2 separate regions of the Homo sapiens genome follow, and region 2 is linked to region 1. Evidence: fine-mapped expression QTL. A gene starts in region 1. The other region holds a variant in brackets. All regions are shown on one strand. Distances are between the middles of the regions. Region 1 holds the start of USP33 (ubiquitin specific peptidase 33). Region 2 overlaps ZZZ3 (zinc finger ZZ-type containing 3).

The links. PIP is the estimated chance that this variant, and not a neighbour inherited with it, causes the effect. A credible set is the group of variants that fine-mapping cannot tell apart.
Region 2: its variant is the best candidate, but not a certain one, in a credible set for the expression of USP33 in blood mononuclear cells (TOPMed, PIP 0.75).

Annotation. Positions count from the first base shown.
Region 1 is chr1:77,757,042-77,762,041 of GRCh38, reverse strand. USP33 (ubiquitin specific peptidase 33) reads left to right here and starts at 2,190. Exons shown (of 24, transcript NM_201624.3): 1 at 2,190-2,399. RefSeq lists a silencer at 2,001-2,280.
Region 2 is chr1:77,651,473-77,656,999 of GRCh38, reverse strand. All of the region lies in intron 1 of ZZZ3 (zinc finger ZZ-type containing 3), which reads left to right. Among named protein-coding and RNA genes, the nearest start is that of ZZZ3, 28 kb to the left of the region's middle. The variant C/T (reference allele first, on the strand shown) is at 3,346.

The DNA of each region.
Region 1 (5,000 bases):
GGACTGTGGGATGAAAGGATAAACACCCAAGGGTGGGAGGCAGGAATTCACGGAAGTTAAAAGTGGGAGAGGTATTACATTATATTCTATCAGAGTGAGTTTGTTTTGTGAGAACTTGTCCACTGCAAGGACTTCACTTGGTGTCCACCTGAGAAGTACTTGCCTACTATTATCTACGCACTAGTCTCAAACTCCCGATCTCAGGTGATCTGCCCTGCTGGGCCTCCCAAAGTGCTGGGATTACAGGCATGAGCCACCGCACCTGGTGATCTTGAACAGCCTTGTCAGTTGTCTTCCTTGCATTGACACTGCCCTAGAACTCCTCCAGGACAGGTAAGCCCAGAGAGAACCTTGGTTACTAAGCAGGATGGTGGTGGGACTTGGAGGCTGAATTGAATTTGCTAGGACACTGTAAGAACAGAATACCCCTGATACATTTTCAATAGAAGAATTTCTGGGGAAGTGACTTTTGTCTATTTTTCTATTTGGTCGCCTGTTTTTTTAAAAATTGATTTCTGGAAATACATATGGAGTTGAGCCCCTTTTCAATTATATGTATTTCAAATAAATTCTATTTGCTGGCCTAACTTTTCTTCTCTCTCTGTCTCTCTTCTTTTTTTTTCTTCTGTAGATCTCCTCTGTGGACAGCTTTTTTTTTTTTTTTTTTTTTTTTTGAGACAGGGTCCTCCTCTGTTGCCCAGGCTGGAGTTCAGTGGCTCTATCTTGGCTCACTGCAACCTCTGCCTCCTGGGTTCAAGTAATTCTCCTGCCTCAGCCTCCTGAGTGGCTGGGATTACAGGCACGCGCCACCACACCTGGCTAATTTTTGTATTTTTCGTAGAGATGGGGGTTTCACCATGTTGGTCAGGCTGGTCTTGAACTCCTGACCTCAGGTAATCCACCCGCCTTGGCCTCCCAAAATGCTGGGATTACAGGTGTGAGGCTCTGTGCCCGGCTGGAGACAACTTTTCATCTCCTAACGGCATCTTTTTTTTTTTTTCCCAGAGAATATCTCACTTTGTCACCCAGGCTGAAGTGCAGTGGCACAATCATGGCTCACTGCAACCTCAAACTCCTGGTCTCAAGTGATCCTCCACTCTTAGCCTCTTGAGTAGCTGGGACTACAGGTGCCTGTCACCATGCCTGGCGAATTTTTGTATTTTTAGTAGAAATGGGGTTTCGCCATGTTGCCCAGGCTAGTCTCGAACTCAAGTGATTCACCCGCCTCGGCCTCCCAAAGTGCTGGGATTACAGGCATGAACCATGGCGCCTGCCTGTGAAACTTCTATTCTGTGAAATTTCTATTCTCCTCAGTGAACCGAGGATAGGCAATCATTTGTGGTGCAAATTGAGGCCTGAGTGTCAATCCCTACCTAGAATTTTGTATCATGGTTAATTTATTTCATTTTTACCATAAAAATAAGTAGAAGCTTTTATATTTTCTACCTATTCCAATGGAGACTGAGCATCTTGCATGATACTTTGGTACATGCTCCCATTTTGGAGACCAAAAAGTCAGATGTCATGAGACAGATTGAAACTGGCAATTTTAACAATTTTTTATTAATATAACCTTTTTTATTCATAGATTTGAACCTCAATCGAGTGCATTTTAACAGTTACATAATTAGAAGGCAGGACTCCTTCCATGCTCCAGGCATTAAGCAGATACTAAGGTTTCAATAAATATTTGATTTGATCCTCTTGATTTTAGCCTAAGGAGAAAATGGTGAGATAAATTTCTTCTTTGCATAGGTGGAAAAGGGAAACATAATTGCTTTCAGAGAATCTAGGTCCTAAGAAGTTGGGGGAAGAAAGATGAAAGGAGGAAATACAATGTTGAATTGGGATAAGTTAAGTCTAATATTTCTTTGCTCAAGTTTGGAAACCTGAGGCCCTTCAGTGGCCAGCCTTAATGCAGTTTTTGTAATGCATCGAGACAAGACCTTATAATGGTCGTAGTGTGTGACTGTGAAAGAGAAGGAGAAAACATGTGAAAAACGAAAAAAAAAAAGCTCACAGCCTCAAACTGCTGCACATACCCTGTACAGTTAGTTTGCAGTCAGAGTAGGGAGCCGGCCTGGGTCCCCGCACCTGGGCCTGGCTCCCGTGGCCCCGCCCCTGGGGCGGGCTCCCATCGAGGCTCCGCCCCCACCTCCCCTATCGCCGGAGACGCCTGCGGCGGCCCCGGAGACACCGGAAGGAGCCGCGGCTGCTGCGGGAAGTGGCCAGTTCAGGAGGCGGACCCCCCGAGGGCAGCGCTGCGGGGCCGTTTTCCGGCCCTCCTGACGCGACACTGCCCCTCTCCGAGAGCTGAGAAGGAAAAGAGGAGCTTGCGGAGGTGCGGCTGCAGGCCGTTGTTGGTCGAGCTGGCGGGTCCCGCGGGCCAGGCCGTGGAGGTGAGCGCGGCGCTGCTGGGAGGGGCGCGGGGCCCAAGGGCGTTTCGCTCGCGTCCGGGGTCCGGTCTCTGTTCTCGCTTCCGCGCGCTGGGGTTGCGGCCGCTGCAGCAGCCTCTTTTTCTTGGTCCTGGGTGGCGGCGGGTTCGCGGGCGGGAAGAAGGCCTTGGCCCCTCGGTGCTCTGCGTTGCAGAGATAATCTAGTGGTCGCCCTGTCAACGGTCGGTGGAGGATGGGAACCGGTCGTTGATTTGAGGAAGGGTCCTCAGGGGTTCTTCCCTGGAAGCGGGAGGTGCAGGTGAGCCCGAGAAGCGGGGGCTCTGCTCCCTTCCTCGGTCTCCCCACTCAGGCTTGCCAGTCCCTCTCAGTGGGTGACTGAAAGCCCTGCAGCGCGCCGGCTCCTGGGTTCTGGTTTCGCTTTTCGGCGCTGTTGAGGGGGCCGGCCCCGTTGTTTGTTGTTGTGAACGGAAAAACCGAGGTGTCATCGTCCCTGGAATTTTTCTTCGACCAATGTTTGATCTTGACTGAGAGGTTACCCCTTACCTTCTGTCCATCTGCAGCCTTTGTTTGGATGAAAGATCCATAGTGTGTGGTTTCCCAGACCTTTACTTATATTTCTCGTATACAAAACGCTCTTCATTTGAATATTTACAGGGTTTTACGTTGAGCTCTTGGACGATGAGATTTTCCTGGGTGTTTTGCACTCAAGTACCGTTGGAGTTTACATTCTCATAGAATCAGTATTAGGCCTGGAAAATTGAGCCAGAGGGTGAAATTCTGGCAGGAGCATAGACTTAAATTGAAGGTGAATTTTACCGTAACGATCTCTAGGCCTTTTGCTTAATAACTATGTGGATGTAGAGAATTTTTAAGTTTAATCAGATTATTTTTCCTTTAAGAAAAACGTGTTACAAAAAGTAACAAGGCCGTCCTAGTTCCGTTTTTCCTACTGTCTTATTTGGAAAGGTCTGACCAAGTCACATTATCGTCATAGGCTATTTGATTTGAGCATAATACAAATATTGTTAGTGAATTCATACTATTATAAATAAGAGAGAAAATAGGAATCTTAAAGACAATGCTAGTTTTATGAAAAAATAATAGAAATAGTTACACAATGCTAGGAGCTTTGTATTATTTCATTACTTTGGCAGGATTGAAAGAAAGGTCAGGGCTGGGCACGGTGGCTCACGCCTGTAATCCCAGCACTCTGGGAGGCCGACGATCACGAGGTCAGGAGATCGAGACCATCCTGGGTAATACGGTGAAACCCCGTCTGTACTAAAAATTACAAAAAATTAGCCGGGCATGGTGGCAGGTGCCTGTAGTCCCAGCTACTTGGGAGGCTGAGGCAGGAGAATGGCGTGAATCCGGGAGGCAGAGCTTGCAATGAGCCGAGATCATGCCACTGCACTCCAGCCTGGGCAGCAGAGCGAGACTCTGTCTCAAAAAAAAAAAAAAAAAAAAAAAGGACAGTACAAAAAATATTATTGGAATAAAATATTTGACCTGATATGTGCAAGAGGGATAGTCTACTTAAGATTGCTTCCTATTTATGATCTGGTTTATGGCCAGTTTCACTTTTTTTCTGTCTTTTCTGAACTTTTTATAACTTAACAGTAAGCAAGTCTTTTTATATAACTGCAGTTTAATGACATTAGATTGTAGTAAATAGGTGATTTTAAATATTTGAAATTCAGAATTGAGATGATAATTCTTACATTTATGTAGTAGTATTAGAATTTTCTGTGACCTTTCACTTACACAGTCTTACTTGATCCTCATGCCAGTCCTCTGAGCTCCGAATGCCAAGAAATAAAGTCTTTCCCCATGACAGAAACATTTCAAGATTGTGTAAGGATCAGAATTTCGTAAAGCCTGAAATAATGTTGCCAAAGCAGCTTTTGATACAGATTGGGAATTCAGATAGATTAAGATTGGAGCACTGTGAACTATAACATATGACAAGACTGTGGACTCTTCACAAGAAAATGAAGTACATAAAATGCTGAAAGATTTTTGGTGAGAAATGTGAAATGTAACCATTTCTAAAAAGGAAGGGAATAAGTAACAGCTCTATTTAGTGTAGTTTTTAAACTTTAAAAGTGTACATGTGTCTGCAGGAACATTTTGATAAGTGGGAAAACTCCAAAGAGTGTGAGATGAGTACAGTTGCTTTTAACTATCTATAAAAAGGCACATGAATTATGTGCTATATTGTATACTGAGAACTAGTCTTTAAGAAACAATATGTATATCAAAATAAATCATGCTGTCAAATGTTCAGAAGGTTAAGTTAGGTCAATATTTTGAGTCTACCAGGACAAGGCCCTTTGGAAAACAAAAAGAATGAAACGTGGTTTCTGCCTTCAAAGAACTTGTAGTCAAGTGAGGCAATTTTTTACACAACAGTAAATGCCTTATGAGTTTTTATAAAAGTTCCTTAGGAATTTAGGTGAGGTAGACATTACTTGTGATTGGGGCTTGGTGAAGGTAGTATTTGAGATGAGTGAGCTTTGAAAGGTAAATATTGGAGGATATTTGTAATGTGAACAGATTAATGAGCTCCTTGAAGGGTACAACTTACATTTGAGAAAACATCGG
Region 2 (5,527 bases), 110 kb after region 1:
AAAAGTAAGTAAATAAATAAAGAAATAAAAGTGTTTTTAAATAAAAGTACAGATAAAACAAGGATATGTGTTGTTAGGCTGTTGAAAATGTTTTAGTCAGAGGCTAGCAGGAACTTCACTCTGAATTTCTCTTGTATTGAGTATTTGATAATTCAGTGCTCATGGCAACTTTATGAGAATCAACTATATATGATCTGTTATGGCACTTAGGGATTTTGAAATACTGAAACTAGCTTGGGAACTGCTTTACCTGTCCTGTAGATTCTTAGAGGTGACGGAGAGTCCAGCTTAGAGGTTGGTTAATATGCTGGTAAAAATTTTTGTGCCCTCTGAAGACAGTACAAATTCAAGAATTTAGAGCAATGGTGCATATCTGATAAGATTCAAGGTCTCAATATTTTGATATTCAGACCTTGACTTTGATATCAAAAGATATTTCAGGGAGGACTCTGTCCCATGAGAAATGGTAAAATATCCTAACTCATTGTGAATCTTTACCTTGATCCGTCTCCTTTAGATTATTTTATTTGCTTTTAAGACTTTTCCTAGTCTTTTTGATTGTTGTGTTGACAGAAACCATTGAGAATTCTTAAGACAGATGGAGCATGGCTTTTAGAGAGGATTAAGTAGTCATTTATTTATTACCTGTCACTGGCCTTAAAAAAAATTGACATTAAATAACATCCTTAAGGATAAGTATCACTAAATAAAATTAATGGAAATTTTGACTTTTTTCCTAAATTTAACTGACAAATTTAAAAAATATTTAAAGCAAGCCAAGAATTAAAATTTTTTGTAAGCATTTTCAAAATGCAGTATACAGTTAGGCAGCTATAAAATATATTGTTGTGAGGAAAACTGTAAGTTGATGAAAGGGAAACATTTGTAAAAATTAAATATATAGATGGATCTTTACATCAGGCATTTCACCTAGGCCTTGCTGAATTATTTATGCTTCATTTATGAATGTCCATTGAAGATGAATGGCTGTCCAGAGCTGAGATTATGTCTTAATGATAAGTACATAGTACACTGTGTGTGCTAAACTAATGTATCTTGAAATGAATCAGTCTTGCTAGTCCAATAATCATTTTCAAGTTAGTCTGTTCCAGGATTTAACAAGCTGGTTTGGACCTAAGAATGATATATGGTGCCTTCTCATCTCATTTCTTCTTCTAAGTCATAGATCAACAAAGGGATTTTTTGGAACTGAAAAGTCCAGGGTGTTTGTCTGGTTCAGGCTGAGCTAAGTCAGTACGTTTAAATGATGTCATATTAGTGCTCTGCTTCTGTTGCTCTACTGCTGACAAATTCAGCTTTATTTGTTGCTACCTGAAGGAGAGTTTTATCTATCTGCCTTGTCTGTTTGTCTGTCTCATTAGCTATTGTCTTAGTCTGTTTGGGCAGCTGTAACAGAAAACCATAGACTGGGTAGCAAATAAACAACAGCCATTTATTTCTCATGGTTCTGAAGGTTGAAAAGTCCAAGGGCAGATTAAGTGTTGGCAACGGCCCAGTTCCTGGTTTATAAGTGGCCATCTTCTCACTGTGTCTTCACATGGCTGAAGGGGCTTAAACTTGACTAAACCCAATCAAAGTAAAGGTAATTCTAGAAGAAAATTAATTTTGATCTTAAAAACCCTTTACTTGATCACATTATATAAATATTAACTCTTTTATTGGCTTATCATATGCTATGGTTTGAATGTCCCATCCAAAACTCATGTTGAAACTTAATCCCCAGTGTGGCACTATTGAGAGGTGGGACCTTTAAGACGTGATTGGATCATGAAGTCTCTGCCCTCATGAATGGATTAATGGGTTAATTGGTTAATGGATTAATGGGTTATCATGGGAGGGGAACTGGTGGCTTTATAAGAAGAAGAGAGACCTGAGCTAGCACATTAGCACGCTCAGCCTTCTCACCTTGTGATGCTCTGTGCTACCTCAAATCTCTTCAGAGAATCCTCATGAGCAAGAAGGCTCTCACCAGAGACAATTCCTTGACTTTGGACTTCTCAGCCCCTGTAACAGTAAGAAATAAATTTCTTGGCTCGGTGTGGTGGCTTATACCTGTAATCCCAGCACTTTGGGAGGCAAAGGTGGGAGGATTGCTTGAGTACAGGAGTTCGAGACCAGCTTGGGCAACATAGAACTTGTCTCTATTTAAAAAGAAAGAAAGGAAGAAATTTATTTTCCACAAATTACCCAATTTCTGGTATTCTGTTATAAGCATAGAAAAAGGAGTAAGCTTCATAGAGATGGAAAAGATATCCATCTATCTATGGAGAGGCGTGGGTACCAAACATAAGGCAATATGTAAGGCCTGATGTCAAAAGGGCCAGTTATGTTTATTTCCTATTTTTTCTTTTCGGTTTTGTTTTTTCAGTCTGTTAATATAGAGTGAATTGCATTGAACCAACCTTATGTACATGTAAGCCAGTCTTACATTTTGGGGATAAACATCATTTGGTCATGGTGTATTATTTTAAAAATATTATTATATTTGGTTTGTTAAAAAGTTGTTTGGAGTTTTACATCTATGTTTATGAGGAATATAGGTTTGTAGTTCAAATTTCTTGTAATTTTTTTGTCTGGTTTTGAAATCAGACTAATCCTGGCCTCATGGAATGAGTTGGGAAATGTTCCTCTTCAGTTTTCTAGAAGAGTTTGGGTAGAATTAGGATTATTTTTTTCCTTAAATGTATATCAAGTGGCATAGTTAAAATTTACCAGTGAACTCACCTTGGCCTGGAATTTATTTTTGCCAAGTTTTTAACTATAACTTCACTTTTTTTTTTTTTTTTTTTTTTTGAGATGGAGTCTCGCTGTTGCCCAGGCTGGAGTGCAGTGGCGCCATCTCAGCTCACTGCAATCTCCGCCTCCTGGGTTCACGCCATTCCCCTGCCTCAGCCTCCCAAGTAGCTGGGACTACAGGCGCCTGCTACCACACCTGGCTAATTTTTTGTATTTTTAGTAGAGACGGGGTTTCACCGTGTTAGCCAGGATGGTCTTGACCTCCTGACCTCTTGATCCACCCGCCTTGGCCTCCCAAAGTGCTGGGATTACAGGCGTGAGCCACCGTGCCTGGCCTAGCTTCACTTTCTTTAAGGATATTTAAGAAATAATTTCTTGAGTGAGTTTTGGGGAATTTGCAGTTTTTCATGGAATGTGTCCATTTCATCTAAATAGTTGGGTTTATTGACATGAAGTTATTTGTAATATTATCTTTTTTAATTTTTTTTTGAGACAGAGTTTCAATCTTGTTCCCCAGGCTGGAGTGCAATGGCACGATCTAGGCTCACCGCAACCTCCGCCTCCCAGGTTCAAGTGATTCTCCTGCCT[C/T]AGCCTCCCGAGTAGCTGGGATTACAGGCATGTGCCACTGCGCCTGGCTAATTTTGTATTTTTAGTAGATACAGGATTTCTCCATGTCGGTCAGGCTGGTCTTGAACTCCCGACCTCAGGTGATCCACCCACCTCAGCCTCACAAAGTGTTGGGATTACAGGCGTGAGCCATCGCGCCTGGCCGATTCTCTTATCTTTTAAAAACATTGAGATATACACTTAACCATAAAAATCACCCTTTTAAATTATACAATTTGGTGATTTTTAGTATATTTACAAAGTAGGACAACCATCAGTAGTACCTAATTGCAGAATACTTGCATCACCCTAAAAAGAAACCCCATACCTATAGCACTCACTTTCTACCATTTCCTCCCTCCCACAGTCTCTGCAATCACTTATCTCCTTTTTGTCTCTATGGATTTGCCTATTCTGGATTCTTCCTGCCTGCCTGCCTGCCTTTTTTTTCTTTCAGAATCTTGCCCTTTTGCCCAGGCTGGAGTGCAGTGGCACAATCGTGGCTCACTGCAGCCTCAAACTCCCAGGCTCAAGCAGTCCTCTTGCCTCAATCTTCTGAGTAGCTGGAACTACAGGCATGTGCAACTATACCTGGCTAATTTTTTAATTTTTTGTAGAAACAAGGTCTTACCATGTTGCCCAAGATGGTCTCGAACTCCTGCAGTTCAAGTGATCCTCCTGTCTGTCTAGGCCCCTCAAAGTGCTGGGATTACAGGTGTGAACCACTGCACCTGGCCTATTCAGGGTATTTTATATAAATGGGAATTTTACAATATGTAACCATTTGTGACTGACCTCTTTCAGTTAGCATAATGTTTTTAAGGTTCATCCATGTTACAGCATTTGTCAATACCTCACTGTTTTTTATGGCTTAAGTGTATTTCATTGTGTTGATATGATATTCCTTGTTTTGTTTATTCACTCAGCAGTTGATGGACCTTTAAGTTGCTTCCACTTTATAACTATTATGAATAATGCTGCTATGAACATTTTTGTACATGTTTTTGTGTGGACATATGTTTTCCTTTATTTTTGGGTGTATACCTAAGAATGGAATTTCTGGGTCATATGGTAATTGTATGTCTAACTTGTTGAGGAACTGCCAAACTATTTTCCAAAGCAGCTGCACCATTTTGCATTCCTACCAGCAATGTATGAGGGTGCAAATAACTCTACATCTTTGCCAACACATGTTTTTGTTGTCTTTTTTATTATAGCAATACTAGTGGGTGTGAAGTATCTCACTGTGGTTTTGATTTGCATATCCCTGAGGGCTAATGATATTGAGCATTTTTTCATGTGCTTATTGGCTATTTGTATATTTTATTTGCAGAAATATCTGTTTAAGTCTTTTACCCATTTTTAGATTAGGTTTATCTTTTTATTAAGTTGTAAGGGTTTTTATAGATAGAGAGATAATTACAAATATTTTCTCCCATTCTATGGGTTATCTTTTTATTCTCTTGAGTTCTTGGAAGCACAAAAGGTTTTAATTTTGATGATCCCCATTTATCTGTATTTTTCTTTGGTTGCTTGTGCTTTTTGAATTTTTATGTTTTAATTGTGGCAGAATATATGTAACGTAAAAGTTACCATTTTAACCTTTTTTTTTTTTTTTTGGAGATGGAGTTTTGCTCTTGTCGCCCAGACTGGAGTGCAGTGGTGTAATCTTGGCTCACTGCAGTCTCTGCCTCCCAGGTTCAAGTGATTCTCCTGCCTCAGCCCCAGAGTAGCTGGGACTACAGATGCACGCCACCACGCCCAGCTAATTTTTTCTATTTTTAGTAGAGACGGGGTTTCACCATGTTGGCCAAGATGTTCTCTGTCTCCTGACCTTGTGATCTGCCTGCCTTGGCCTCCCAAAGTGCTGGAATTATAGGCCTGAGCCACCGTGCCCAGCCCCATTTTAACCATTTTTAAAGGTTACAGTTTAGTGGCATTAAATATAGTCTCACATTGTGTGTAACCATCACTGTGGTCCATCTCCAGAATGTTTTTCATTTTGCATAACTGTAACTCTGTACTCATTAAGCAATGACGTGACATTTCCCCCTCCCTTAGTCCCTGGCAACCACCATTCTGTTTTTTGTTTTTATTAATTTGACAATTTTAGATAAACTCACGTAGTAATTGGAATCACACATTTGTCCTTGTTGGTTATGCT